7 separate regions of the Homo sapiens genome follow, and all the other regions are reported to be linked to region 5. Evidence: microRNA targets listed by miRTarBase, many of them from high-throughput screens and not tested one by one. Region 5 holds a microRNA gene; each other region holds the end of a gene's coding sequence.
The links. The annotated mature microRNA hsa-miR-7-5p reads UGGAAGACUAGUGAUUUUGUUGUU and lies in region 5 at 2,617-2,640, opposite strand. An mRNA with a match to its seed (bases 2 to 7 or 8) in the 3' UTR can be bound and repressed. Matches are read on the target gene's strand: a 7mer-m8 pairs with bases 2 to 8, a 7mer-A1 pairs with bases 2 to 7 and ends in A, and an 8mer does both.

Region 1 (4,055 bases), not on the chromosome of region 5:
GGGCACTTGGGAGGGAGGAGGCATCTCCTTTTTTTGAGAAAACAGAGCCTAACACTCTTCAACGTACCCAACCCTCATCTTCCAACTCTTCTCCATCATAGGACCCAAAAGGGGGAAACATGCCTGGACCCACAGACTGCGTGAGAGAAAGCAGCTGGTGATTTATGAAGAGATCAGTGACCCTGAGGAAGATGACGAGTAACTCCGTAAGTGAACCTTCGGCTCACCCTCCACATCCCTGCAGATGTGCTATTCTGTTATGGTACTGGTATCCCATCTTGTCATTTGTTTCCCAAATCATTCCTTTCTCATAATTTTCTACTGTACAGCATTGAGGCTGAATGATGAGATTTCCCATGCTCTTTCTACTCCCTACCCTGTATATCCAGGGATCCTCACCACCCAGGATGCTGTGGGTTCCCAAACCCCAGGTCAGCCCTGATATGTGGCCACACCTTCTTCTAGCCTAGGAATGCATAAACCAGGCGAGGAAGTCACTGTGGCATGAGCAGATGGTTCACTTCGAGGAACCATGGAAGGCGTGTCCAGGTCCTGGGGTAGGGCAGAATCAGAGTGTGCAGGGTCTGCAGGTCAGGAGGAGTTGAGGTTGAGTTATTGGGCAGTGGGAACTCGCTGTCACTTACTTTCCTTCCCTCTTCTCGCCTCAGCCTGGGGGATACGACACATGCCCTTGATGAGAAGCAGAACGTGGTGACCTTTCACGAACATGGGCATGGCTGCGGCTCCCTCGTCATCAGGTGCATAGCAAGTGAAAGCAAGTGTTCACAACGGTGAAACTTGAGCGTCATTTTTCTTAGTGTGCCAAGAGTTCGATGTTAGTGTTTCCATTGTATTTTCTTACAGTGTGCCATTCTGTTAGATACTATCCTTATAATTGATGAGCAAGACATACTGAATGCATATTTCGGTTTGTGTATCCATGCACCTACGTCAGAAAACAAGTATTGTCAGGTATTCTCTCCATAGAACAGCACTATCCTCATCTCTCCCCAGATGTGACTACTGAGGGCAGTTCTGAGTGTTTAATTTCAGACTTTTTCCTCTGCATTTACACACACACACACACACACACGCACACACACACACCAAGTACCAGTATAAGCATCTCCCATCTGCTTTTCCCATTGCCATGCGTCCTGGTCAAGCCCCCCTCACTCTGTTTCCTGTTCAGCATGTACTCCCCTCATCCGATTCCCCTGTATCAGTCACTGACAGTTAATAAACCTTTGCAAACGTTCCCCAGTTGTTTGTTCCTCTCATTATTGTGCACACAGCTTTGTGCACATGTGTGAATATTTCTTTAGAAAGATTCTTAGAAGTGGAATTGCCATGTCAAAGGAGTCATTTATTCAACAAAACCCTAATGAGTGTGTCCTCGTGCTGAGCGCTGTTCTAGGTGCTGGAGAGACATCAGGGAACAAGACGGGGAGATGTTCCTGACCACCATTCTAGAGGAGGATGTTTCCAGTTGTTGGCTTTCTTTGTTTCTTTGTTTGTTTGTTTCTTCTGGAGATGGGGTCTTGCTCTGTCCAGGCTGGAGTGCAGTGGCACGATCATAGCTCAATGCAGCCTTGAACTGCTGGGCTCAAGCGATCCTCCCACCTTGGCCTCCTAAAGTACTAGGATTACAGGCATGAGCCACCGCGCCTGGCCTCCAGTTTTTATTTTGATAGGGACTATACACTTCAGTCCTGGAGCAGGATTCTGCAGCAGGTGGTTGGGCAATTTGGCCTTCGCTCTCTGAACAATTTTCGGGTTCTAGGGCTGGGATGGTCCATTTGGGAGTATGTGGGAAGAGACACAGATGAAATCGTCATCTGGGGAACATGGAGGAATGAGGAAGATGCGTGCACTGTAGACCCTGTGATGGCCAGGGAATAGAAGAGTCCACTTAGTCTCCATGCAGGGGAGCAACGGTGGGAAGGTCCCCTGGACAGAAGCATGAGACTGCCCATCAAGGGTCTCACCACCCAAGGGCCTGGGGGCTGGGGTGGGGACGATGATTTGGGAATGGGACAGTTCTTTCTCACAGGTACCAATGCACGGTGCAGAGGGGAAACAGTTGTGGGGAAGGGAAGGGCAGAGGGGAGTCTATTTTAGCACAAAGCATTGTGTGTGAATGGAGACATCAAAGCTCCATTCACACACCATGGACTTGAAACACCAGCCCCAGGTGGAGGCAGGATTGGAGCTGTTTTGACCGTCCATAGCCCATCACCTTGGCCTCCTGGTTCTCCCAGCCTTAGAAGGAGCACACTATGATCATTATGCCTATATGACAGATGAGAGACGGAGTCCCAGAGAGATGGTAGGCGTCTTGTCACAGGTCCTACAGCTGGCAGGTGCAGGAGGAGCTGAGTTTGGAGCTCACTGACTTCAGAAACATTAAGGAGGACAGGTGTGTGTGGTGGAGGAAGGGAGAACTGAACAAGTCCCGGGTTCTGTCCCGTCACAAGGTAGAGGCTGTGGGTTCATTTTCCAAGACAAGGAACCCTTAGAGATGGAGAGTGCAGGGAGGAAGAGGCAATCGTGGACATAGTGGGACAGTGGGAGACAGAGATGTGCAGCGTAGGGAGAAGAGGGGCAGGCAAAGAAGCAGGGGATACCCAAGACCAAGTGTGGGCTGTCACAGCCACCAGAGGGAGAGGGTGCCAGGAAGGAGGTTGTGGGGCTCCAGGAGCAACAGAGGTTCCCCAGATCTGTGAGCACGCCCTGCCTGGCACTGCAGGAAGAGGTGGCTGCCCCCCAGGTCAGTGTGGACGTGCCTCTACCTGTGTCTCAGAGGAAACAAATTCTATTTTATCCCAATATAGTTCTGTATTACACAAATGTAACATTCGGCTACTAGATATCAGGTGCCTTATCCTCCATGCAAACAGAGGAGAGGATACCCAAAAAGAGATACTGAAGGATTTGGTTTTTCTTTCTCCCTGGGATGATGGGATCCATAAGTTGGGTCCCCCAGCCCACAAGACAGGTGCCAGGAAGGGTGACTGGAAGAGTGTGAGTCATGACAGGGAACATTTTTCCTTAGGTTTCTTGGGTATATAAAGCTCCCGACTGTCTATCATGGATAGATAAAGAGTGAACATGGTCCCCTCTCCACAAATGTGTTTCTTTCCTTCATTATTACTGTGAAGTGCCGAAGATACACCAAGTCCTGATACATTACTTTTTTTTTTTTTTGAGACAGAGTCTCGCTCTGTTGTCCAGGCTGGAATGCAGTGGTGAGATGTCGGCTCCCTGCAACCTCTGCCTACCAGGTTCAAGCGATTCTCCTGCCTCAATCTCCAGAGTCGCTGGGAACACAGGCGCGTGCCACCATTCCCAACTAATTTTTTATATTTTTAGTAGAAACGGGGTTTCACTGTGTCAGCCAGGTTGATCTTCTGGCCTCGTGATCTGATGGCCTCAGCGTCCCAAAGTGCTGGGATTACATGCGTGAGCTAGTGCGCCCAGTGATGCATTACTTTTTTATGTCTGTGTTTTTTTATATTTTATTTTTTATTTTTTTATTTTTTTTGAGACAGGATCGCACTCTGTCTCCCAGGTTGGAGTGCAGTTCTGCAATTTCAGCTCACTGCAGCTTCGATCTCCCAGGCTCAAGGGATTCTCCTACTTCAGCTTACGAACTACCTGGGACTACAGGCACTTGCCACCACACCCAGCTAATTTTTGTATTTTCTGTAGAGACAGGATCCCACTATATTGCCCAGGCTGGTCTCTATCTACTGGCTTCAGGCAATCCTCCTGCCTCAGCCTCCCAAAGTGTTAAGATGACAAGTGTGAGCCACCTCGCCAGGCCTTCGCTTTCTTTAATGAACAATTATCAGAGTTTCATCTTAGAGGCAAAAGTGGCTACTGCCAGCCAATCTGAGTGTTGTGTCGGAGGGGAATCTGGCTGGTTCAGACGTTTCAAATGAACTTTTAAATTAACCTACCTGATGATTACCCTAAGGCCCTTTCTCGCTCCATGTTTTTTTGATTATGGGTTTGGAGTTTTTCAGAAGCTTTCCTACAAAGAACATCTCCTG
Region 2 (4,068 bases), not on the chromosome of region 5:
CCTTTGGGGTTGTCTTGTGGGAGATTTTCAGTTTTGGACTCCAGCCATATTATGGATTCAGTAACCAGGAAGTGATTGAGATGGTGAGAAAACGGCAGCTCTTACCATGCTCTGAAGACTGCCCACCCAGAATGTACAGCCTCATGACAGAGTGCTGGAATGAGATTCCTTCTAGGAGACCAAGATTTAAAGATATTCACGTCCGGCTTCGGTCCTGGGAGGGACTCTCAAGTCACACAAGCTCTACTACTCCTTCAGGGGGAAATGCCACCACACAGACAACCTCCCTCAGTGCCAGCCCAGTGAGTAATCTCAGTAACCCCAGATATCCTAATTACATGTTCCCGAGCCAGGGTATTACACCACAGGGCCAGATTGCTGGTTTCATTGGCCCGCCAATACCTCAGAACCAGCGATTCATTCCCATCAATGGATACCCAATACCTCCTGGATATGCAGCGTTTCCAGCTGCCCACTACCAGCCAACAGGTCCTCCCAGAGTGATTCAGCACTGCCCACCTCCCAAGAGTCGGTCCCCAAGCAGTGCCAGTGGGTCGACTAGCACTGGCCATGTGACTAGCTTGCCCTCATCAGGATCCAATCAGGAAGCAAATATTCCTTTACTACCACACATGTCAATTCCAAATCATCCTGGTGGAATGGGTATCACCGTTTTTGGCAACAAATCTCAAAAACCCTACAAAATTGACTCAAAGCAAGCATCTTTACTAGGAGACGCCAATATTCATGGACACACCGAATCTATGATTTCTGCAGAACTGTAAAATGCACAACTTTTGTAAATGTGGTATACAGGACAAACTAGACGGCCGTAGAAAAGATTTATATTCAAATGTTTTTATTAAAGTAAGGTTCTCATTTAGCAGACATCGCAACAAGTACCTTCTGTGAAGTTTCACTGTGTCTTACCAAGCAGGACAGACACTCGGCCAGAAAAAAAAAAAAAAAAAAAAAACAAGCAAACAAAAACATTGTGGGATGTGCACTCCATTGGAGTGCATGACATGGCATTGGGATTGGAACATGTGGTTTCGAGCACTGAAAGCTGCAAACCAGTGAAGAGGAAAAGAACCTTGTGATTAAATATAAAACCAAAAGTCAAATGGTGCTTTGTGTTTTAGCCTTCAGTCACCATGACTGGTCTCTCCCCCAGATGTATATATACCATAGCATTTGTCTACCTGCTGTCTTTTCTTCAGGACAGATGTTCAGGAATTATATTGATTGAATTTAGACTCTGTGCATGTTCTTATGGAAATGATGTTCAGAATCCATGAAGAAACTTCAGGCCAAATTTGAAACCCTGGAGGGAAATGAGCCATAAGGGAAGTATAACAAGCCCTGAAGCCTTTTATGTCGTTGTGCTTCTTTGGGAAGGTGTAGAGTGTGCCTTTTTGTGAATCCTCCTCTGATCATGAGGGTCTTTCCCACAGTTTCTCACAGTGTGTTTACACTGCCCTTGGAATAACACAGCGCATCAGACCATAAGAAGGCTAGATGTGGATGCTAGAATTGATTGTTGGTTGATAGTTCTCTTTGCTGGATTAGGAATGAGGCGCCAAAGGAAGCACAGCCAGGAAAATGGCCCCACAGCCTAGATCAGCATCTGTGGGAAAGGAAAAAGGGTTCCCATGGGGACAGCCCCCATAGGAGTTTTCTGGAACCAGTAACACTGAAAAATAAGTGTGTGGCTACAGATGAGCACGCCCACCCCTTGCAACTCCCTGTTTACAAGTTGTCCGAGGCATTGGAGTGCTTATGGTCAATGGGCTCTAGGGAAGTAGGAAACTCCATCATGATACAAATGTCTAGTAATTTTAAAGTTTCTTTCCCTTTTTTTCTGTGCTGGAAATGTTCACAGATTTGATTCCCGCCCCAAGAATTACAACAATGTATTCATACAGTCAGTTGGAATCCAAAGGCAATTAATTCTATTTTGCAAAATATGATGGTCTTCCTAAAAAACAAGTACTGAGTTCTCATTTCAAAAGTTACCAAGAACTGAATTCTTTAAACTAGCAAACCGAAGTAACATGACCATTTTTGCCTTAGTGGGAGGTTTCAAATGTGCAGCTCATGGCATTTACCTGCCGACCATCTTTTGCCAAGTTTAGAATTCTTATGCGTTTCAAGTTCTATATAGAAAGTAATTTTACTTTTGATTTTTCTCTTGTTAAAAAAAAACTCCTTTATTCTAAGAACAATGTCTCAAAGTCTCATTTTTACTTTAAAGGTATAAGAGACTTCTAAAGAGACTTACGGGATATAAAAGTAATTCCTGGAAATGATATTTGATGAGGAGAATGTAAGAGAATGAAAAACACATTGATGTTTTCATTTTTAAAAAATACAACTAGCATGAGAAATCAAGAAAATATGTTTACCAAAATGCATTGCAATTTTCCCAAACCTGAGTCTTCAAATAACAAACATGAACTTATAGGTACTGTGAACTAGAAGAATTGGTTATATCCAGATTTCTGGGAGATAAATTAAAACATATTTTTGTGGCATAAATAAGCTGATTCAGAAGTTACATTTCTTAACTTTAGGTAGAGGAGAATATTTGTATCCTTTTGTTGCTATGCAACTGTTTAATGATGAAGCTTCAAACCACAATTTTGTATATCATATGACAATCAATTGTTTTCCAAGAATATTTATTATTTTAAGTACACAATTTCAGTGAATCTTGAGTTTTTCTAGGAGTCCCTTAAAGGGAAATTAGCATTCCATGAGCCAGTAAAATACCTACTCTGGTAAAACATTATTATGGTTAAAAAGTAAATTCAAGTTAGTTTTTTATAAAGAACTATAACATTTATTTTAAACATTTTATAATAACTGAAAACATTAAAGTGAGCAAATGAAATTTCAAAACCACTTGTAATAATGTATTTTATAATCGCACTGTGATACTATATAACACAGTCTCTTTTGTATTAAAATAGTATTTTTTTCACAAGCTGAAAAATATCTTTTCCTTTGTTGACAATGTTTTGTAAGATGACTTTATTTTCAGATCTTTTTCTCCTTTTTTGCACAAAACTATGCTTATGGTTTGTGTCACAGAAGTGAAAATATATCTTTGCATTTTTATATCTGGTCTGTTTTTCTTGTTTCCTTTGTTTTTAACTTGATATAGATTTTCTTCAAATATATAATGGCAATTTTCAGATATCTCACCTTACCATATCTTTCCTTATTTTCACTGCATGCATTTAATCACTGTATTACTTAATGTTTGATTTGTTATTATGGGCATTTCAAATAGGCAAGCATTGAATTGTAATGACAAAAAGGCTATTTTATATTAAGGATATATGCATTTGTATTTCACACACCAGAGATGATATTAAACACTGATTATTTTATGCTGCTGTTTATTAAAAATGTTTACTATAAAATATTATTTCCTGAATATTGCTGTCATAGAGGTATTTGGGGATTTTAACATTTACATTTTATAGAAAGAGGAATCACAATTCCTATTTGCTGTTATTTCATTAAATTTTTTTTTTTCAGTAGGCTTTTAAAACAGACTTGGGCATTATTTTGCTAGCAACCATAGGTGGAGAGGGGAATCCTAATGATTTCATAACTGAATACTATCCACCTATATATGGCAAGCTTTGAATTTTTAAAATCAAAATAATATATTGAATAGTTACAACCAATGGAATATAAAAAATATTTGATTTTAAGAATATAGTTGCATCATTTTCTGCCTTAATATTTCCATATAATCTTAGATATCAAAAGTCACCTCTTTGGACTCTAAAGAAGAAGAGGCTGTGTACATCTTATCATGCCCAACTTAGCTTCCAAACATACTGATAAAATAAATGGGGCCATTTAATTGTCACAACTTATCTTTATGACCTTATTTGCCCAAAAGAAAGAGTTCCTCATCTGGCAATTAATACACATGGTCAAGGAAAATGAGTACCATAATGAAAGTTCAAAGAAGTTGTCCATATCTGCTATTTAACACAGAAAGGAATACAATAAAACCTTTAGGGCCTTATCCATCTGTTTTAGGTACAG
Region 3 (4,068 bases), not on the chromosome of region 5:
CTAAGGTAAGGAGTTTGAGACCAGCCTGGCCAACGTAGTGAAACCCTGTCTACTAAAAATACAAAAAATTAGCCAGGTGTGGTGGCAGGTGCCTGCAGCTACTCCGGAGGCTGAGCTACAAGCATCGCTTGAACCTGAGAAGTGGAGGCTGCAGTAATCCTAGATCGCACCATTGCATTCCAGCCTGGGCGACAGAGTGAGACTCAGTCTCAAAAAACAAACAAACAAACAAACAAACAAACAAAAAAAGGCCAGACGTGGTGGCTCACACCTGTAATCCTAGCACTTTTGGAGGCCAAGGCGGGCAGATTGCCTGAGCTCAGGAGTTCGAGACCAGACGGTGAAATCCCGTCTCTACTAAAAATACAAAAAAAAATTAGCCAGATGTGGCAGCGTGCGCCTGTATTCCCAGCTACTTGGGAGGCTGAGGCAGGAGAATTGCTTGAACCCGGGAGGCGGAGGCTGCAGTGAGCCAAGATCGCGCCACCGCACTCCACCCTGGGTGACAGAGAGAGACTGTCTCCAAAAAAAAAAAAAATGTATCTGACCTCCTTTGTTTTGCTGGTAGGTTGTAAGACCCCATTCCAGGAAGGGTTCTTTCCCCTATCCAGAAGGAAAGAATCCAGACAGGCCTCGCTGGGCTTCCCCACTCAGTCTATGAGCATTAGATCATGCCCTTCTTGTCCAGTCCTATTTCTACTCAGCTGTGCATATTTTGTTGAGCCTAAGCATAAAAATAGTTTTCCCTGTAACTTTGGGTCTTAATTCTGAAGGTTCCTTTGTCATGTAAAAGCATGACCGAATAAATTTGTATCACTTTCCTCCTATTAATCTGCCTATTTTCAGTTGAATTTTTAGAGAAACCTGAGAGCAAAGGGGAAGTTTTCCCTTACACTCCCTTACATTCCACTTGGACTTTTGAAATCAACTTCTGTTACCTTCCTTTCTGTATCACTGAAACTCCTACCTTGATTTATGTTCCCTTCTTAGCATTTACCATTATCTCTTTCTCGCCACACACACACAAACACACACACACACACACAAAACTTATTAGGTTCATCTCTGCCACCAAAATGTAAAACCCACACTAATAGGGTCTTTTCTCTATCTTCTTTATCCCAAGGACTATCACTGTAGCACACAGCAATCACTCAAATATTTGTGGGATTGATAAATGGGAATACAACTCATGCAGACTGCAGTCATCTCAAATTAAGTAAAAGACAACAGCCTGAAGCCACATTTTCAGTGAAATGATCATCACATTCTCAAAACACCTTTGACAACTTTTATAAAATGGGACTTCGGCTAGGCACGGTGGCTCATGTCTGCAATCCCAACACTTTGGGAGGCTGAGGCAGGAGGATCACTTGAGCCCAGGAGAATGAGGCCAGCCTGGGCAACATACAGGAGACTCTGCCTCTACAAAAATAATTTTTTAATTAGCTAGGCGTGGTGGTGCATGCCTGTGGTCCCAGCTACTCGGGAGGCTGAGATGAGAGGATCACTTGAGAGGTTAAGGCTCCAGTGAGCCATGTTTGTGCCACTGCACTCCAGTCCAGGTAACAAAGCAAGACCCTGTCTTTAAAAAACAAAAAATGTAGTCCCAGCTACTTGGAGAGCTGAGGTGGTAGGATCACTTGAGCCCGGGAGGTTGAGGCTTCAGTGAGCAGAGATCAAGCCAACCTGGGAACAGAGTGAGATCCTGTCTCCAAAAAAAGAAAAGGTGGGAGACTTCACAGACAGTTCTGAAAGCAAAGGCACAGGGAAATTACATATCTGTGTGTGTCTTCTGGGCTCTACTACCTACTAGTTTTCTGACCTTAAGACCCTTTCCAAGCCTGTTTTCCTCCTCACTTCCAAAATGGTTTTACCCAAGGTAATGGCAGTTTTGAAGCATGAATAAGACAGACCAAGTAAAGTGCTTAGTACTAGATCGAGACATTACACAGTACTCAAGAAATGGTAGCTACTTTTATTACCAGCAGGCCGTTAGTTTCACAGAGGAAGAACAGTTTCTACAGGTGGTGATCTAGTCTCCGGTTCCACCTTTCACTCTTTTCTGTGGCCTTGGGCAAATCATTTAATCTGTCTTTGAAGCTATTTCCCACATTCATAAACTACGTGGGCAAGTGAAAATAATTCAACCCTTTTTTCCCAAATAGAAAAATACTTAAGATTTTAGCACTGATCCATCAGAGAAGCCACACTGGAAAACCTACGCAGAAACTAAAACTTGGTACCATTCACTATCCTCAAGTTTATAGAATTAAAAAGTAACAGACGTAATAGGTATAAATACTCAGAAAACATGAACATGTCTCATGTCAAATAAGAACAGAAAGTTGGTGTGTAAAAAATGTGGATTAGCTGTCAATATATAAAACACAGAATACTGTTTTTAAAAAGAATTGTTTATTTACCGAACCTGGGGCATATTAGATACAACCAATTTTAAATTTACATCTTTTAAATCAGTTTTGAAGTGTTTCACACACACAAAAAACTTGGCATGCAACAGTTGTCCTAAGGTGAAAGTCACCTCATTAATAAACTGTTGCAAGTGTTCTCACCCAAGGTGGAAGTATGGTTTATCCTGAACATGAAAACCTGTAACAAATTTAAATTAATTATATAAAACTCGTTACTTGTAGTTTTGCCCTTGCAAAGATCCAAAAAAAAAAAAAAAAGCACAAGTAACTAATATGTATCAGTCACAACATAATCCTGGATCATCCCCATACCAAAACCGGATGCTCTTTTAATTTTAAACCCATCATCAGAGAACAAGAGAAAGTAATTTCATTTTACACAAAACAAGATTCACATGTGCCAAAAAAGAAAGACCCAAAAGAAACAAAAACCAAAACCCTAATGCTGACACTGATGGTCAGTACCCTGAACAGTGGCCCAAAGGCCACTGATCAAAAATAAAATAGTGGCTGTATATCAATGAAATGAAATCCAAGAAGCTTTAACCCTTTGGCATCAGAAATCCAGATTTTTCCAATTATGTAAATGCTTATTTCTTACATGCCAAGAGTGGGAGAAGTGAATGTGCCAATGTGGAAAGAAAAAAAGCCACCACTCACTGGGACACCCAGAGAATTGGCTTTAACAGACAATTAGGGGGTTAGGCAGAAACCCAGAAATGGTTATTAGCTGCTTGTGTCATCAATTTAAGTGGAGATGACTGAGTCCTAAGGTACAATGTAAAAATGTATGTGGGAAAATGTATGCTGAGTCGTAGTTTTAAAGCAAAACAAGAAAACAAAGTATGAAAGTACCCAGCCTGGCAGCATACACCCAAGTCAGAGAGCTCTGCCATTAGGACGGGCAGAAACCGTCAAGATTCATACTGCTGTTTCTCATAAGGACTCAACAAAAATGAATCTTTAGTGACTTGAACCATAGACTGAAGGAATCCAAAGAATGCAGTCATTTTAGTAAAGTACTATCAGGCTTTGTGCTGATTTCCTGAACAAACTGCATTATATTATGAAAACAAAAGGAAAAGAAGAAATAATAAAAACTATACTCCCATATTTCACTTACAGTGTTTGAGTTCCTGGAAGGACCTATATAATGGAGGCAGCATTCAAACAAGAAATTATGCCAATCAACTGTCAAATTTTCACTATAATTTTCCTAAAAAGGCGTTTTTCCCCCAATATCTATTAATCTCAAAGAAACATAAGTTGTGAATGTACAGTTCAGAAAATAAAAATGGAGAAACTAATGACATTATTATGACCAAGGTGTTTGGTAAACAGTGAATTCTGAGTTGGGATCATCAGGAAGAGGCTTTTTAAACAACTCTCCGGACTTCAAAAAATCTCTTCAGGTAGTAGATCTGTCCCAATGTCATGGCAACTAGAACAAGAGCTTCAAAGAAGGACCAAAGGACCACTCTGCTGTTTGTGTTGTCGTTGACTGTTGAGGACAAAACAAACAAACAAAATTTAACAATTCTCCCCCAAAAAGACATAGGCATCATAAATATTTTAGTCTTCACTCTGTGTGAAAGTAATATTGTGTACACCACTCATAGAATAGATGTTCCTC
Region 4 (4,068 bases), not on the chromosome of region 5:
GTATAAAGTGTAAGGAAGGGATCCAGTTTCAGCTTTCTACATATGGCTAGTCAGTTTTCCCAGCACCAGTAGGGAATCCTTTCCCCATTTCTTGTTTTTGTCAGGTTTGTCAAAGATCAGATGGTTGTAGATGTGTGTTATTATTTCTGAGGGCTCTATTCTGTTCCATTGGTCTATGTCTCTGTTTTGGTACCAGTACCATGCTGTTTTGGTTACTGTAGCCTTGTAGTATAGTTTGAAGTCAGGTAGCATGATGCCTCCAGCTTTATTCTTTTTGCTTAGGATTGTCTTGGCAATGCAGGCTCTTTTTTTAGCTCCATATGAACTTTAAAGCAGTGTTTTCCAATTCTGTGAAGAAAGTTCTTGGTAGCTTGATGGGGATGGCATTGAATCTATAAATTACCTTGGGCAGTATGGCCATTTTCACAATATTGATTCTTCCTATCCATGAGCATGGAATGTTCTTCCATTTGTTTGTGTCCTCTTTTATTTCGTTGAGCAGTGGTTTGTAGTTCTCTTTGAATTAATTGCCTCCCACAGGGGTTTCTTCTTTATTAGTCTTACTAGTACTCTATCTATTTTGTTGATCTTTTCAAAAAACCAGCTCCTGGATTCATTGATTTTTTGAAGGGTTTTTTTTTGTGTGTGTGTGTCTCTATCTCCTTCAGTTCTGCTCTGATGTTAGTTATTTCTTGCCTTCTGCTAGCTTTTGAATGTGTTTGCTCTTGCTTCTCTAGTTTTTTTAATTGTGATGTTAGGGTGTCGATTTTCGATCTTTTCTGCTTTCTCTTGTGGGCATTTAGTGCTATAAATTTCCCTCTACACACTGCTTCAAATGTGTCCCAGAGATTCTGGTATGTTGTGTCTTTGTTCTCATTGGTTTCAAAGAACATCTTTATTTCTGCCTTCATTTCGTTATTTACCCAGTAGTGTTGACATATTTTTAATGTAGAATTAAATTTAATGAACCATTCTTTCTGGAAATCAACTGTATTTTGGTTTCACTGCCTATCGAATATAGCATTTTAGCTGGTTTCTCAAGGTTAAGATTTCCAACTTCTCACCAAAAACCTACAGGTATCTCAAACAAGTGATGATCTCAGGAATGTGAATAATTGGCAGGAAAAGGAGACAGATGTGGCAGGTTACAGAAAGAACCAAAAGAAGATCCAAGTTGTTAACCATTGTTGTCAACACACTACTGTAATTTTTTTCTAAATTTAAAAAACCTTATATTGTAAAGAAACAAGTAACCATTCTGAAACCTAAGAACAAAAATCAAAAGACCTTAAAACAATCTTGAGAAAATCTGTCACAAGGCAAAATTTTATTTTTTCAAGTTACAAAAATAGGAGCATGTCAAAAATACAGTCTAGTCCTTATACGAGTAGTTCCAGCCATTTAAAAGTTATACAGAGTTTGGAAAAAGCAGTTTATATACAAGTCTTAAAACACAACAATCATGAACAATGCACACCGTTCAATGTAGTTATTGCTAGTTATATGCAGCTTTTAGTTACCATTGTTCTTCTCTGTAAGGGAAAGGACAGCATTTGGACATTCTGATTGTTGCTGCTGAAGCTGTGGTTTTGGAAAATCAATCCAAAATAAGAATAAGCTCACTATGAGTAGAATAAAACGTGTAAGTTTCAATCAGTACTACAAGAAAGCATGGTTTAAATTTGAGTTCCATACAATTCTACATAACTCTATTTTGTTACTATAACAGAAATACAGTGTATAGTTTTGGGCAAGAGTAAATGAATTACTGGTTTTATAATTAAGTGAAAAGAAACAGTTTTTGGTTGCAATGTAGAAACAAAGCTGGCATATCTAGCTTACAAACATTAAAAAATGGAAAAGATATTTAATGTTTAAGCAAAAGCTGAACCTAGGTTATTTACCTTTAGAAATTAAGAGATAAAGTTAAGCATTTTGTTCTTTTGAGGATTATCATGAAGATTTGCTATTCTCTATTTTCTTTTTAAAAAGAAGAGTTATCCACATAGCGGGAACATATTTTGAAACAGATCTATTTGCTCAATGTCATATGGAAGAACAAATCACAAAATTAAATAATTCTACCTTTAAATAATTAAAGATAATGCAGTTGACAGTACAAAGCACTGGGAAAAAATCACTTATTTGGGGGATGTGTGATACATAAGAAACTTTGGGCCTAAAGTTCACATGGAAGACTGGAAGACTTAAAATTTAAGGGTGTCACCAAAAGATAACAATGGCTTTGACTCCAACTCTCATGTTAGACCCTGTTAAAAGGTTAGGTTTATTGCTGTTATTTTACCCCAGTAAGTTATTGAATAAATGGAGATATACATTGGTGATAAGTATGAGGTGAAGTAAAAAGATCTAAAAATATTAGTCTTAGAACAAAAATGACACTCATGATCACTTGGCAAGGATACTTATTTACTTAGTGATTTAAATCCTAAAAATAAGCTACATTTTTAGGAGGTAGAAAACAAGTACCAATAGTTTACCATTTGGCCACCCTCCTTACTTTTGGCTTCAGCCTTGGATTTCTATTTCTCATTCCCTATTCTCCTGTTAAAGCTATTAGTTCTACTACCATTCATTACCTAAATGTATAGACCTGGAGCTGCCAAGAAAAATCTTTTTAGGAAGCTTTGCTTTTAAGCCACCAAATGCACCCAATACTCAGATATCAACTGAGAACGTTTTGCACCTCTCTAGTTGATTAATTTACTTCACACAAAAAAATGCCAAAACAAAAATTACTTAAAATGAAAAACGACCACTGAACATCTCTATATGCAATTCCAGTATGTCAGAGTAGTTATGTAAACCTAAATCTGTACTATTTTCACTGAACTGATTTGAAAAAGCCATATATTAAAATGGCATTACCAGTGTTAACTGAAAACAGGCAACGTGTTTTACTAGAAAATTAACCTAATAACCAAAAAACTCCACTTCTTCCCAGAGTGTTATATTGTGCTGACATCCCATAGATAATATTATAAAAAGATTTTATTTTTGCAATAGGCTGGGTTCACAGTGAGTATGTTAGTACCAAGATCATGTGTTTAATATTATTATAAGAATGTCATTAGTGGAATGTATATAAGGCATGTAAAAAAATAGTTTTAAAGCTCTTAGAGGGCAATGCTCCAAACTGGCAGCTGCTAGAAAAGGTGCTGACAGGAATAGAAAATATTAAAGAAATTTAGTTTCAGCACATATTATAGTGCTTCTACAATCAAAATAATTCACATAAATTTCAATTGCTGGAACTAATGGACCAAATGAGAATGGACTTTTGCCCCTTTAACTACTAGACCAATCTTGAAAACGGAAGCAATCACTTGCAATCTTCCACACAGTATTGTTGGGAGTGGACTGAGCAGTCAGCAGGAAGTTCTGGTTGAAGAAATGTTGTTTGTTTCCATCAAACTTCACAGTTCCACTGGTCACAACAAGAACTGTAGTTTGGGACTGAGTTGCTTGCTCTTCATCCACATTAAAAAAAAAAGAGAACACATCATTTTCTATCTCTAAATAAGCAGATTTTCAGGCTTAAAATACATTGTTTATGGACTAATGCTTAAAATTTTTTTCATACACTTTCTGTCCCTTGAGCATAATCTTAAGCATGCATACTCAAACCCAGAAAACTAAGTACTTAGTAAAAGATATTAAAATTATTTTCAGTCCAGAAAACTTTGGGATACTCTAGTTTCAAAATGAGGAGCTTATATCTAGCATAGGACCATTTGCTTCATATATATATAAATATTTCAGAATTAATATTTCAGGTTTCTAACAGAGCTTATTCATGCTTTGCTTCTTAAACTATTGTTCTTTTCAGGAATTATAAAGGAAAAAAATCACCCTGAACTACAATTTAAGACACTTAGGACCCCACCTAGAGGTTTTATTAAACTGTATCAATCTACCTGGAATCAAATTTTCTTGTAAAAAGTCATCCTTTCACATAACAGAGTAAATTTCTGTGAAATATTAGTAGATTGTAAGATACTGAACACATTAATCAGAGATATGGTATAATTTTACTCTGGAGACATT
Region 5 (4,068 bases):
TGTGTATGCTCAGAGGGGAGACAGTGAGGAGATCCGGACATGCAGGGAGGCGGAGGTCATGGAGGCAGAGGGCTGGAGGGAGGTCATGGAGGCAGAGGGCTGGAGGAGAGAGGATGGATTTGAGCACAGTGACTCATCTTGGGGATCATGGGGAGTGGATGAGGAGGGGAGGATCTTGGGCATGTAGAGGGACTGTCATATTCATGGGCATGTCAGGGGAGGAAGCTAGGGGCTGGGCAGATTGAGTGTTCACTTTGAAATGATTAATTTGGGGTGACTGGGAGACACCCATAGCAGAATGTCCTCCTCCATTGAGGACCCCAGAAGGCAATATCTGTGTGCCTTTTCCTTTCTGAAAGACCTTGCATTCCCAGGGGGCAATTCTAAATAGACCAGGAAACCTCCCACAATTAGACCTAACCCAGACATTGAACCTCCCTCTGCTCAGCCCATTCATAAAGTGCCTCTGGCATTTAGGTGTCTTCTAATCTCATTTTCTCTGCTTGTTAATGGACCCACTGAGGCAGTACTCCTGGGAGAGAGAGAAAGATTTCATTTGTCTGGGGCTGAGGAGGGAGACGAGGGTTGCCAGAGCTAATGAGGAATCAGTGCCTTGTAATTGCTAATTAAATGAGCCTGGCTCTCTCTCTTGGGGCTGTGAGTTGGCTGGCCGGCCCTTAAGTGTCCACAAATTCAATTATGCTTCCCCAATAAACACCTCCAGCAACCATTGCCCTCCAGTATCTCTCTGGGGGAGACCTAGAAGAAGGATCTTCCTGTGTGTGCTGAGGCCATTCATTCATTTATTGATTGATGTATTGGTTTATTCTTTGATGCCTTTATTGATTCAACACATGCTTATTATATGCCTGCTGTGTGCCGGGCCCCGGACCAGGCGCTGGGGACACAGCAGTGAAAATACTAACATTGTTTCTGCCCTCACGGAGCTCACAGTGTAACAGGGAGACAAATAGACCTGTCAGTAGATAACATGAAAATAATTGGACTATGTGCTGCAGACACAATATCCCAGGTCTATGAGAATGTCAATACAGACTTCACGTGGGAAATGGTGAGGCAATAAGGATCGTTTCCCTTGATGAAATGGAGCTTGCAGAAGAAGGCAGGGTCAGTTGTGGGGAGCTCTGGTTGGAGGTGGAGGGAGTGCATTCCAAGCTGCAGGAACAGCAGAGGCAAAAGCCCTGAGGCTGGAGAACAGGTAACCATGTGCAGTTTTTCACTTGATTAGGGTGTTGCAGAGAATTGGGAGTGAGTCTTATATATTTATTTATTTATTTATTATTTTTTACTGAGATGAGGTCTTGCTATGTTGCCCAGGCTGGTCTCGAACTCCTGAGCTCAAGCTATCCTCCCACCTTGGCCTCCCAAAGTGCTGGGATTACAAGTGTGAGCCACCATGTCTGGCAAAGGTGGTGAGCCTTTATGATGTCATAAGTCACCACTGGGCACAAGTTCACACTTGTCCTATGATTGGCCCATGACACTGATGGGTAGCAGACAGGAAAGGAATCTTTTCTGAAACTTTTTTTTTGAAACAGGGTGTTGTTCTGTTGCCCAGTCTGGAGTGCAGTGGTGCAGTCATGGCTCACTGCAGCCTTGATCTCCCAGGCTCAAGTGTTCCTCCCACCTCCTAAGTAGTTGGGACTACAGGCATGTGTCAACTCACGGGGTCTCACTATATTGCCCAGGCTGGTCTCAAACTCCTGTACTCAAGCAATCCTCCCATCTCATCCTCCCAAAATGTTAGGATTACAGGTATGAGCTCCCACACCCAGCCCACTTCTGGAACTTTTATTGAAAAGTATCCTTAGGCTGGGTTCGGTGGCTCACACCTGTAATCTTGGCACTTTGAGAGGCTGAGGCAGGAGACCATGTCTTTACAAAAAAGAAAAAAAAAATGTTTTTTGAGACAGAATCTCTCTCTGTTGCCCAGGCTGGAGTGCAGTGGTGCAATCTTGGGTCATGCAGCCTCTGCCTCCTGGGTTCAAGGGATTCCCATGCCTCAGCCTCCCGAGTAGCTGGGACTACAGGTGTGTGCCACAACGCCCAGCTAATTTTTGTATTTTTAGGAGAAATGGAGTTTCACCATGTTGTCCAGGCTGGTCTTGAACTCCTGGCCTCAAGTGGTCCACCTGCCTTGGCCTCCCAAAGTGCTGGGATGACAGGCGTGAGCCACCCGGCCAAAAAAATAATAATTTTTTTTTTAATAGAAAAGTACCCTGAGAACTCTGGTCTAGGGAGGGCTTTAAATGTCATTCCCTCATTGGGTCTCCCAGGAAAGCGCCATAAGGTGGTTAGAGGTCTTGGGTTTAGAGTCAGGTATGTTCTATCTCCAGGCTTGTGGGGGCGTACGAGTGATGTGACAAACCCCATACATGGTGCATGGCTGTATGAGCACAGGATGTATGTCCTTGTTTGCTTCCCTCCTTTGCCTGTGCCTGTATCGCCTGGAGTGAGCCAGCCCCCCCACTCCGAGTGGAAGCGATTCTTCCCCGACCTCCCCGGTTCTCCCCCACTGGCCAGCCCATTGAAGGCGAAGGTCGAAGGGAGTCTGCGCTATGAGGCCGGCTGTGACTTGTTGTCGTAGTACATCAGAACAACAAAATCACTAGTCTTCCACACAGCACTAGACCACAGCCACTCTAATCTTCTTCACCACCCTCTGCCCCATGTCTGAGACCCCTGCCCAGCTCCTCCTTCTCACCTGAGCCAAGCTATGACACCTGAGTTTCCTGCCTCTGTGCTGCCTCCCTGTTTTCCATTCCCGGTTCTCCTGGAGAGAAGCAGGGTCTGATCTCCAAGGGCCCACCTCCCACCCAGGCACGTCAGAGACATGGGATTTGGAGTTGGACTGGTGGGGTTGACTTACAGCTTCACTTGTGGGCTGAGAGTCCCTGCGTGGGTTATTTTTCTGCCTTTCTCAGGGCCTTGGGTTCCCCAAATGTCACATGGGCACAGTAACACCCATGTCCTAGGGTTGAAGATGGCATGATATGATGTATGTAAAATGCTTGGCACAAGGTTTCTCACCGAAGTCTGGAAGAGACACCATAATGTCATCTTAGCAGGCAGCTGTTACCCCAGTGAGGTATCTTACCTGTTGAAAATTCCGGACTTGGGCCAGGCGCAGTGACTCACGCCTGTAATCCTAGCACTTTGGGAGGCTGAGGTGGACGGATGAAGAGGTCAAGAGTTTGAGACCAGCCTGGCCAACATGGTGAAACCCCGTCTCTACTAAGAATACAAAAATTAGCCGGGAGTGGTGGCATGTGCCTGTAATCCCAGATACTCGGGAGGCTGAGGCAGGAGAATCCCTTGAACCCAGGAGGCAGAGGTTGCAGTGAGCCGAGATCGTGCCACTGCACTCCAGCCTGGGCGACAGAGCAAGACTCCGTCTCGAAAAAAAAAGAAAATTGCAGACTTCTGTGTGTGCTTATCTGGAAAATACTTTGTTTAAAAATCCATTACATGAGGTGCAGGTCTCCAGAAATGCCAGGCACCTCAGACCACCCTCTCTCGTCCTCCCCCTGCAAAATCAGGGTCAAAGGGCTCTCCCGTTACCTGGAGGAGCTGTCCAGGGTTCTGGAGACGAAACGGAGCCCGCTGGGAACTGTCCTGAGCCCCGGTGCTGAAACAGATCGCGGTTCTCTTCTCGGACCTCCCGAGAGGCGCTGTCCGGATATTTGGTGCTGAAATAAATAGCATTCTCCTCCTTCGGTCGGTGGAGAGCTGTCCCTCGTGCTGAAGAAAACTTGATTTTCCTCTCTCTTTCCCCGTTCCCCCACCCCTCTTCGTTCTCGGTTCCTCCGATTCTTGGGAAACCCCACCCCCACTCAATTTATTTCCCCTCCTAGCTTCTTCCTGGGGAGCTTCAGAATGGCAATGGGGTGGCGGGGGGGAGACACAGAGGGGTCGCAACTAGCACTGATACCTGCTCCTCACCCTGTACCATGTCCCCAGAACTTACCTCCCAAGCAGTCAGCCCTGCTGGTCTCTGCTTTCCAGACCGTCAAACTTCGCCGTCTCTGTCCCTTTCTGGGAAAATGT
Region 6 (4,068 bases), not on the chromosome of region 5:
TAGTGGACCCTTGGGCCTCTCCAAAACTTAGGGACTCATTACATCCTCATCTGTACCTCCTAAAGAGCTTTGTCAGTTGTCACAGCAACAGAAACCAGAGATCAGGGCATCTGATGTCCTGGCTCAAACCTCAGCTGCTGAGCTCTGATTTGCAACTGAAAGCAGACAGGCAGGTAGGAGGACCTTCGCACCTGTCAGCACCAGCACCTGAGGCTGGCCGCAAGGTGGGCAGGGCCACATTCCCCAGAGGTCAAGGCTGAGTCACCAAGGCAGAAACCAGGAGCTTCTCTCAGTTCCCGGGAGGTGGGTGAGCCACCAGGGAGCAGAGTGGAGCCTGCCTAGGGTGAGGCCGCCTGGCAGCCCTGCCTCTCATTCATTTCCACGTCATCTCTCAGGCCTCCCCAGTTCTCAGCTAACCCCGACTGTCTCTGCAATGACCCCATTTGGGTAATGAACGTGTAAATAGAAACCACTGCACTTTCACCAGCCCCAAACTCCTCTCTAACCCATCAGCAACAGGAATGTGAGTAACAGGTAAGAGACTCGAGAGCTGAGCAGCTGGATGGGTATTGGCTGCCATGCCCCCGCCCCTGCCTCCCCCAGGACTGAAGTACACTGAATAAAGGAAGAACTCCCACCGAGCTGGGTTTGCATCTCTGCTCCACCCCTTACTGCTCCGTGGAAGACCTCAGCGTCATTTCTGGAAGAGGGGAATGCCTCAAAAGGTTAAGACTAAATGGAGCTGGGCATGGTGGCTCACGCCTGTAATCCCAGCACATTGAGAGGCCGAGGCGAGTGGATCATGAGGTCAGGAGTTCGAGACCAGCCTGGCCAACGTGGTGAAACCCTGTCTCTACCAAAAATACAAAAAAAAATTAGCCAGGCATGGTGGTGCACGCCTGTAGTCCCAGCTACTCGGGAGGCTGAGACAGAATTGCTTGAACCTATGAGGCAGAGGTTGCAGTGAGCTGAGATCGCGCCCCTGCACTCCAGCCTGGGCAACAGACTCTGTCTCAAAAAAAAAGAAAAAAAGACAAAAATGCGCCTCTGACTTGGAGGCAGCTAGTACATGGCAGGCACTAAAATCAATGAAGCTGGTCTGTTAGCTTTGAAATCAGAATGACCCTGAGATCAGTTTCCAGCTGATACTACAGAGGGTCAGGTGATAACACTCTTCAGAGCACTCCAGCAGAAACTGGTTTCAAAAAACAAAAAAGTTCCCTCTTCTTCAGGGCTTTCCTGGCAGCAACTTCAGTGACCAATGCAGGCAGAAGGGAGAGGCTGATGGGGAAGTGGTAATCATTATAAAGAACCAACCTGTTCACCTGGCTCACAAAATGCTTTCCTGGCTCATAAAACACTCCCTAGTCCAGTATCCTAGGGAAGATTCGTCACGTATGTACACACATGTACATCTACACACAGCTATATATGACATTACCTTGATAACTACTCTGTATATTTAAACTGGCATTAAACTAGGGTAGGGACTGAGATTTACCCCTGAATTGACCCTCTTCCCTGTAGCTGGGCATTAAAAAGATCTTAGCTCAGTAGATAAAACTGGGCCCAGGCAGAAAGCCCTCTAAGCAGTTGCCAAGGCAACAAACCAAACACCCCCATCAGTGAGGTGACAGGGCCTCCCAGTGTCAGGTTATTTAAGCAAATGGAAGCTGCAAGCATTCCTCTGAAAATTCAGCCACAAGCCCTACTCATTGTTCCCAGTAGCATTAAGAAGTCTCATATTAATAAATATCAGTAGCCTAAATTTTGCCAGACAAATGCTCTGTGCAGATGTTCCCTCTTACTTTGCTTTCTAAATGCGAAACGGCGCTGGAAGCCTTGAGTCACAGCTTGAGCAGACGTATTTCCGCCTGTGAGGTGCAGCTGGGGTCCTTCGTGGAACGAAGTTATCACCCTCCTGGAGGAAGGGGGTAGGACCATCACGCAGATCAATGCCGCAGTCAGTGAAACGAGCAGTCTCGGTGGAAGTTAAAGTATTTATTGATGTGTTTAAACTGTGTACATTCTCCACAGATCATATTAAGGAGTTTGTAGGTGAAGTTTAATCTGTGCATAGTGGGTAGAGACATGAATAGGGTCAAAGGGGAGGAAAAAGGAAAAAAACAAAACAAAAACAGTCACAGGAAAATAAAAATACACCACAGGTTACCAGAACCTTCAGATTTAAAATAAAAAGAAAGAAAAAGCAGAAGCAGTGAGCATCGACATCAACTGTACAAGCATTACAAAGACTCCTGTGACGAAAACACAATTGTTCAAAGCTTTCCACAGTGTCCACAGACTCAGTTTCAGGGACAGCCTGGACTACTTTCCTTTCACACAAACAAACCTCCCCGTGTTCTCTCCTGGGCCAGCGGCCGCCTCCTTGGTGTGGTCTTCTCTGAGTGAATGTCACAAGGCCGGTGACAGGAGGGGGTGGAGGTGAGGGGACAAAGTAGAGGCCGAGGGTCAGTGCCTTTGGAGAAAGTCCAGAGAGGAGGAGCCTGCACATCTGGACATAGTTGGAAGGGGAAGTGAACGGTAAAAAGCTACGGTAGGTAAACAACAGACAGTGAAGAATGTCAAATATAAGCTACAGGCTAATCTCTGTGGAAGCACTGGATTCCGAAGGAAAGCAGCAGCGGACACCCTCATCTGTATACACTAAGCTCTCTAGAAGACGCTGGAATAAAATGCCTTTAACGTCCTTGGTGACAGGACTTTTATGGAGACACACAGGTATCCAGCCGTGGAAACACTGGACTTCAAGAAACTGGTCCTTTCACATCATTTTGCGAGGGTCTCTCACGTGCTTCAGTGGCCATTACAGTTCCCTATTCCACCCCATTTCTCAGCAACTTCCTGAAAGCTCATTTAAAAAGGGAATACTGCCTTTTTTTTCTTTAAATAAAAGCCAGGACAGTGAATGAGGCTGAAGAGTTGACTTACACAACATAACCGGAACGACAGCCTGCATATAAGTCTATTATTGAAAATCGACATTTCCCATTTATTATATATTGAGAGCATGTGTCAGACAATACAATGGAAGTGGGGTTTCTGATTAATTTAAAAAAGAAAACTACATCAAATATCTGCAATAGATCATTTTTTTCATTTAAGGTTTATATATCATATATTGTTATATTACCATTTTTCACCCATTTAAAAGAATGGAAATTGCAGTTCTACAGTAGTACTTTATATAGTCCTACAGTCCAGGAGGTCAGGATGTCAGACGCAGCCCCTGGCAGCGGCTGCTGCTTGGCAGTCGATCGGAATCGTGGGATCTTCCGGCCCACCTGCATCCCTCCGCCAGGGCTGCCGCGCTCCCTGCCACCTAAATCTGCATCTGCTCCAGGTATTTGTAGGTGGGGTTCTCATAGCCATGGTTCTGCATCTTGTTCAGGTGACGCTCTTCTGGGGTGAGCATTGGATCAACCTGGAAGAACAAAACCTGAGGGTCATTGTGGTGTCTGGGAAGAGACCTGCACAGGGTGCTGGGAGACCTGAGCCATTTGCTGCACAATCCCCTGAGGACCAAATGCAGCCAGCAGCCCGTTCCCACCGGACAGGCCAAATGAGAACCGGTGGTGAAACACAGGAGAAAGAAAATAAGGGGATCAAAGAGGCAATGCTTTCGAAACGAGAGCCCTGAAAGCTTAGCCCTCACGGAAGATGACAGTCAACTGGATTTCCTAGCACCGTGGTGACAAGCAAGGCTCGGCGCCACTGCTTACTACCTGGGCCAGCCAAGGCAAGCCAGTCAGCAGTAGGCTAGCAAGCAGACGGTGGGACCAGGGGATCTCTGGTCTTTTTCAGTTCTGAAATTCTACAGCTAGGCCAGTCTCCAGCAGGAGATAAAACCAAGTAACTGGCCAGGTGCAGTAGCTCATGCTTGTAATCCCAGCACTTTGGGAGGCTGAGGCGGGTGGATCACTTGAGGTCAGGATTTGAGATCACCCTGGTCAATATGGGGAAATCCTATCTCTAATAAAAATACAAAGACTAGCTGGGCGTGGTGGCACACACCTGTAGTCTCAGCTAGGTGGGAGGCTGAGGCAC
Region 7 (4,068 bases), not on the chromosome of region 5:
TGTTGCAGAAAACTATTTAGGAGGCCTGACAGGGAAAATCTCACAAGCAAAACTTGTCCTGCAACCTTACTTTTATTGTTTAAAAAATTCTGTGTAAAAATAAATACTTTTCAACTCAAGTTAACTGGAGCAAATAGATCCAATTAAAAAAATAACATAAACACAAACAGGGTTTTCTACTTGCCCTGTTTCTGAAGTCATGACGTGAAAGAAAGGCAAACCCACCCAGGTGAGCCACAGATCGCAGAAAACACGAGCTGTCCAAGGAAGACCGCCCTCCTCTCTGAAGCAGTGCTCATCTTTTCAATAAGAAAACACCAGGCATCATATATTTAAATTTTAGAATATTTTAATGTCCATTTCTTCAGTGAATGCATTTTGAAATTATTAGAATTAACAATTTAAAAAGAGCAGATAAAAGGATATATGGAAAATGCAAACAGTCGGTTCTTGCTAATTCAATTTCAGATTCTAGGCATGATGTGATTTTCCAAACAACCAATTAAAAAAAACTCCTTACCTCGAAAATCTAGAAATTCAAATGCAGACGTGTCTTTGGAAACTACAAATGATTACAGCCCATGTGACAGGAAGCACGCGGCCTTCGGCTCTCCGGATCGTGTGCAAATGTGCAGGGGGAGCCCCCGCGGGTGACGTCAGTGTGGATGAAGTCACGGGTGTGGCAGAGCCTGTGGGGCTCTCAAGCTATTCGAGGGTTTTGTAACTGATGCTCTACATTTGTTTGCATTGGATAAAATTGTGTGTGCTTGTTTACCATATATATATATATATATATATATATATATATATATATATATATATGGATATATAATTCGATCTGAGCTGGGACTGAGAAGAAAATAGCAATTGCAACTCAAAGCAACTATTTACACACATTCAATGCTGAAGTATTGCTTCCTGCCCTAAGTTCCTAAGAGGTATTGCCACCCTGAAGCACGACCCATGCCGTCAGCAGCCCTCGTGCCAGCTGCTTAGAAACTCGTGTCTCCAGCACGATGTGCTCGCTGCCAACAGACAAGAGATGCACGGCGTTTCCGCTGCAGAGATTCTGTGGTTCTGCACTGAGGTATGCATCGGAGCAGGGGACGGGGAGGACCCGAGGGGCTTCGTGGCCCAGAGAGAACGTCTGCACTGGCTGTTTAGGAAGGCTCAGGGTGTTTGAAAGACAACGTTAAGCTCTGGGTGAGTCTGCACGGGGCTGAACCAGACTCCACTTTGCAGCTCCTTGGTTTCCCGGGGTGAGGAATCACAAACACCTTTGTGGTTGGGGAAGGAAATGGGCTTGATGGGGAAGAAGTGTGTGCGGAGAACTTTGCGGAGCATGTTCTGAGCGAGACAGCAAGGTCGTGAGCAAACGCCCAGCCCCTCAAAGCTACACAGCCTGGAGGGGAAAGGGGAGGGGAGGACATTCAAATATACACCTTAATACTGATGCAGAAAGAGCTTCATGTGACCACAATCCCCACGAACAAGGAAAGCATCAGGTAGTGTTTTTTAAGGAAAAAAAAAAATCTGCGGTGTTTTATAATACATTCTTTAGAAGCAAGAGGTATTGTCACAACCACCCTTTCTTCGGTATTGGAAGACCAGCAAACTGACAGTCACACCTGACAGGAAACCTTACAGCTAATGGGGGGAGGTGCCCTGGACTCTCAGGACGCCGGGACCCTGGCTCTGGCTGTCCTGATGGGTGGCCATCCCAGGCACCGCCCCTGGAGAGGTGGCGGGTCAGAATTGTGACTTCTTCATGCCGGGGAGGGCAATCTGTATGTCTCTGGGGAGGAGTAGTGATGATGGGGACTGATGCGGTGTGAAAACGAGACAGTGAGATTTGACAGCGGAAAGCAAAATGCACAGGGACAACGGGCAAGACTGACAAGGAGTGCACCCTGGGCCTCATCAGCGTCCCGGGGTCCCCTGAAAGACTGGCTACAACTCCGACCGGACAACTCGGGCGAGCTCACTTCCACACAAACTTCAGACTCAATATGGCAAAACATAATCAGACAGGACCAGCAGCCAACTGCCCGGACGGAGCTCCCCCACACCACCCTCGGGATTCCGCCCCTAACAAACCCCGCGTTTGCATCCAGATGCCTCTGTCCCTAGATACGGTGTGAGAACTCCATTTCAGAGCTGGAATTTGCTCCCCAGATTAAATCCTGCCACTGATAGGCCCTGTGCCATCTGAGAGCGGGAGGCAGCCAAGAAACTTCTGGAATTTGTGGAAGCCAAGATGGCACCGGTGCTGCCGGCACAGACCCCCGTGGTTCTGAGCTGGACCCCGGCAGGGAGGAGCCCCCGTGGGTGGCAGGGGCAGCTGGTGGGCTTCTCCTATTCCCCTAGCCTCAGAATTGCACTGGCCATGCTTTGAGGTCCCACTCAGACCCCTCTTGGGGTGGGGAGGTTGGGGGCGGCCCCAGGTGGCCAAAACACAAAAGAGACATCTGGTTACCTTCCTGGGAACTGCCCTCCCCTGTGGCTATGACCCCCCACCCTGAGGACCCAGCACCCCTCCCGGGAGCGCACATGCTTCCGGGTAAATAAATAAATAAATAAATGCAACCTCGGATGTTTATTTGGTATTTCCCTCTCCGATGAGTCAGCTTCCAGGACCAACACCTCCACTCCCGATGGGGAGACCCCTGGGTGGAGGGTCGGGGGTGAGAGGCGGCTCTGAGACCCCCGAGGCCTGGGCACACGGGCGTCGTGCCCGGCTGGCATTTGCTGTCTTGGCCTGCATGCATGTGGGCGAGCCCCTAAACCCGCTCAGTGCAGGGAGCGCGGCTCACCCACAGCCCACGGGGCGCGGTGCTCGGGAAAGTGCGGGTGGGCAATGGGGGGTGGCGGAGCTGTCGTGACATGCCCCCTTCGCACCCCCTCTTGGCGGATTACTGGCACTTTATATCAGATTCATGAATGCAAGTGTGTGTGCGCATGTGTGCTTACATAGAGAGGTCGGGTCGTAGAGGAACACTGTGACATAGACAGAAACAAAATAAACTCAAAAACAGGGTATTAGCCAGAGAACCGAAAATAGTGTCTCGTGGGACGTGGGAAAAAGCAATAAAAATGAGATCTTAACCACAGCTTTTGTTCTAAAAGTCAAATAATACCCAAAGCCATGATCTCCACTGGCGGCCTCTGTCCCGAGACTCGAGGCCGAGGCCAGCCCTGAAGGCACTTGTTCTCCACCACGTGCTGAACGGATGACCCAGAGGCAGCGGGGTTTCCAGGGAAGGGAGCGAAAGGGAAGAATGGATGAAAATGAACCCTGAATAACTGTGATCCACACAGAAGTTAGGGCTGAAATGACCACATAACACCACGTCCGGGGAGGGCAACTGTGGCGCTTGGAAAGCACAACAGCCAAATACAAATATTACTGTGTTTCGACAAACAGAGCACCTCGGGCAGCGGGTGGGCGCCGCCTCACACACTCTTTGAAACGTTGAGCTTGGTGAGTTCGTTGGCTTCTTCTATTCCTGTTTCGTCACAGTCGTCTTTCTCTATGGCTTTGCCAAATCGACCCCTTTCTTCGGCTTTGACGGGCTCCTTCCACGGTCTCTTGGGGGACAGGTGGGCATCCTTGGCCTGCGTGCTGCTGTCAGAACCCAGAGATGTCTTGTCCACATACTGGACAGAAGGCACCAGGTTGGCAATCTCGTCTGTGGGAGACCGTCCGATGCTGCCATCCACCTGGACGCGGATGTCTGGGGAGATGGACAGCTGGTGCTGTGGGATGACCCTGTGATCCGTGCACTTTGGGTACAGGTAGGTCTTCATCTGGCCTTTCCCCTTGACATTCACGGTCCCTCTGTAGTCGAAGTCATAGCCCATCTTGCTCAAGACGCGGTAGCTCTCTTCGCTCACCTGGATGCGGCACTCCACGCCGGTGGTGTCCATCCTGCTGGCGATGTTGACGGTGTCTCCCCAGATGTCGTACAGCAGCTTGGTGGTGCCGATGACCCCGGCCGTGAGGGGCCCATGGTTGAAGCCGACGCGGAGCTTGAAGTTGAACCACAGCATGTTGTTGTTGAAGTCGTC

Region 1: the mRNA of SSX1 is a reported target of hsa-miR-7-5p. The part of its 3' UTR that is shown has no 7-base or 8-base seed match.
Region 2: miRTarBase lists ROR1 as a target of hsa-miR-7-5p. Seed matches in the 3' UTR shown: 7mer-m8 at 1,973-1,979.
Region 3: miRTarBase lists TMED2 as a target of hsa-miR-7-5p. The part of its 3' UTR that is shown has no 7-base or 8-base seed match.
Region 4: miRTarBase lists NXT2 as a target of hsa-miR-7-5p. Seed matches in the 3' UTR shown: 8mer at 2,200-2,207, 8mer at 2,192-2,199 and 7mer-A1 at 2,052-2,058.
Region 6: miRTarBase lists APLP2 as a target of hsa-miR-7-5p. The part of its 3' UTR that is shown has no 7-base or 8-base seed match.
Region 7: miRTarBase lists ADCY9 as a target of hsa-miR-7-5p. Seed matches in the 3' UTR shown: 8mer at 1,601-1,608.

Annotation. Positions count from the first base shown.
Region 1 is chrX:48,266,186-48,270,240 of GRCh38, forward strand. It overlaps SSX1 (SSX family member 1), which reads left to right. Exons shown (of 8, transcript NM_005635.4): 7 at 102-206; 8 at 669-1,259. The coding sequence ends at 202. Among named protein-coding and RNA genes, the nearest start is that of SSX1, 13 kb to the left of the region's middle.
Region 2 is chr1:64,178,071-64,182,138 of GRCh38, forward strand. It overlaps ROR1 (receptor tyrosine kinase like orphan receptor 1), which reads left to right. Exons shown (of 9, transcript NM_005012.4): 9 at 1-3,428. The coding sequence ends at 785. Among named protein-coding and RNA genes, the nearest start is that of UBE2U, 24 kb to the right of the region's middle.
Region 3 is chr12:123,596,473-123,600,540 of GRCh38, reverse strand. TMED2 (transmembrane p24 trafficking protein 2) reads right to left here. Exons shown (of 4, transcript NM_006815.4): 4 at 1,959-3,936. The coding sequence ends at 3,812. Among named protein-coding and RNA genes, the nearest start is that of DDX55, 3.6 kb to the left of the region's middle.
Region 4 is chrX:109,541,930-109,545,997 of GRCh38, reverse strand. It overlaps NXT2 (nuclear transport factor 2 like export factor 2), which reads right to left. Exons shown (of 4, transcript NM_001242617.2): 4 at 1,300-3,491. The coding sequence ends at 3,310. Among named protein-coding and RNA genes, the nearest start is that of NXT2, 7.1 kb to the right of the region's middle.
Region 5 is chr19:4,769,272-4,773,339 of GRCh38, reverse strand. It overlaps MIR7-3 (microRNA 7-3), which reads right to left and starts at 2,670; the gene lies at 2,561-2,670. MIR7-3HG (MIR7-3 host gene) reads right to left here. Exons shown (of 3, transcript NR_027148.1): 1 at 3,989-4,068; 2 at 3,583-3,710; 3 at 784-1,176. RefSeq lists a silencer at 3,509-3,803.
Region 6 is chr11:130,142,724-130,146,791 of GRCh38, reverse strand. APLP2 (amyloid beta precursor like protein 2) reads right to left here. Exons shown (of 17, transcript NM_001142276.2): 17 at 1,987-3,445. The coding sequence ends at 3,344. Among named protein-coding and RNA genes, the nearest start is that of ST14, 15 kb to the left of the region's middle. RefSeq lists an enhancer at 1-933 and a silencer at 1,004-1,298.
Region 7 is chr16:3,962,322-3,966,389 of GRCh38, forward strand. ADCY9 (adenylate cyclase 9) reads right to left here. Exons shown (of 11, transcript NM_001116.4): 11 at 332-4,068. The coding sequence ends at 3,454. Among named protein-coding and RNA genes, the nearest start is that of TRIDDENT, 14 kb to the left of the region's middle.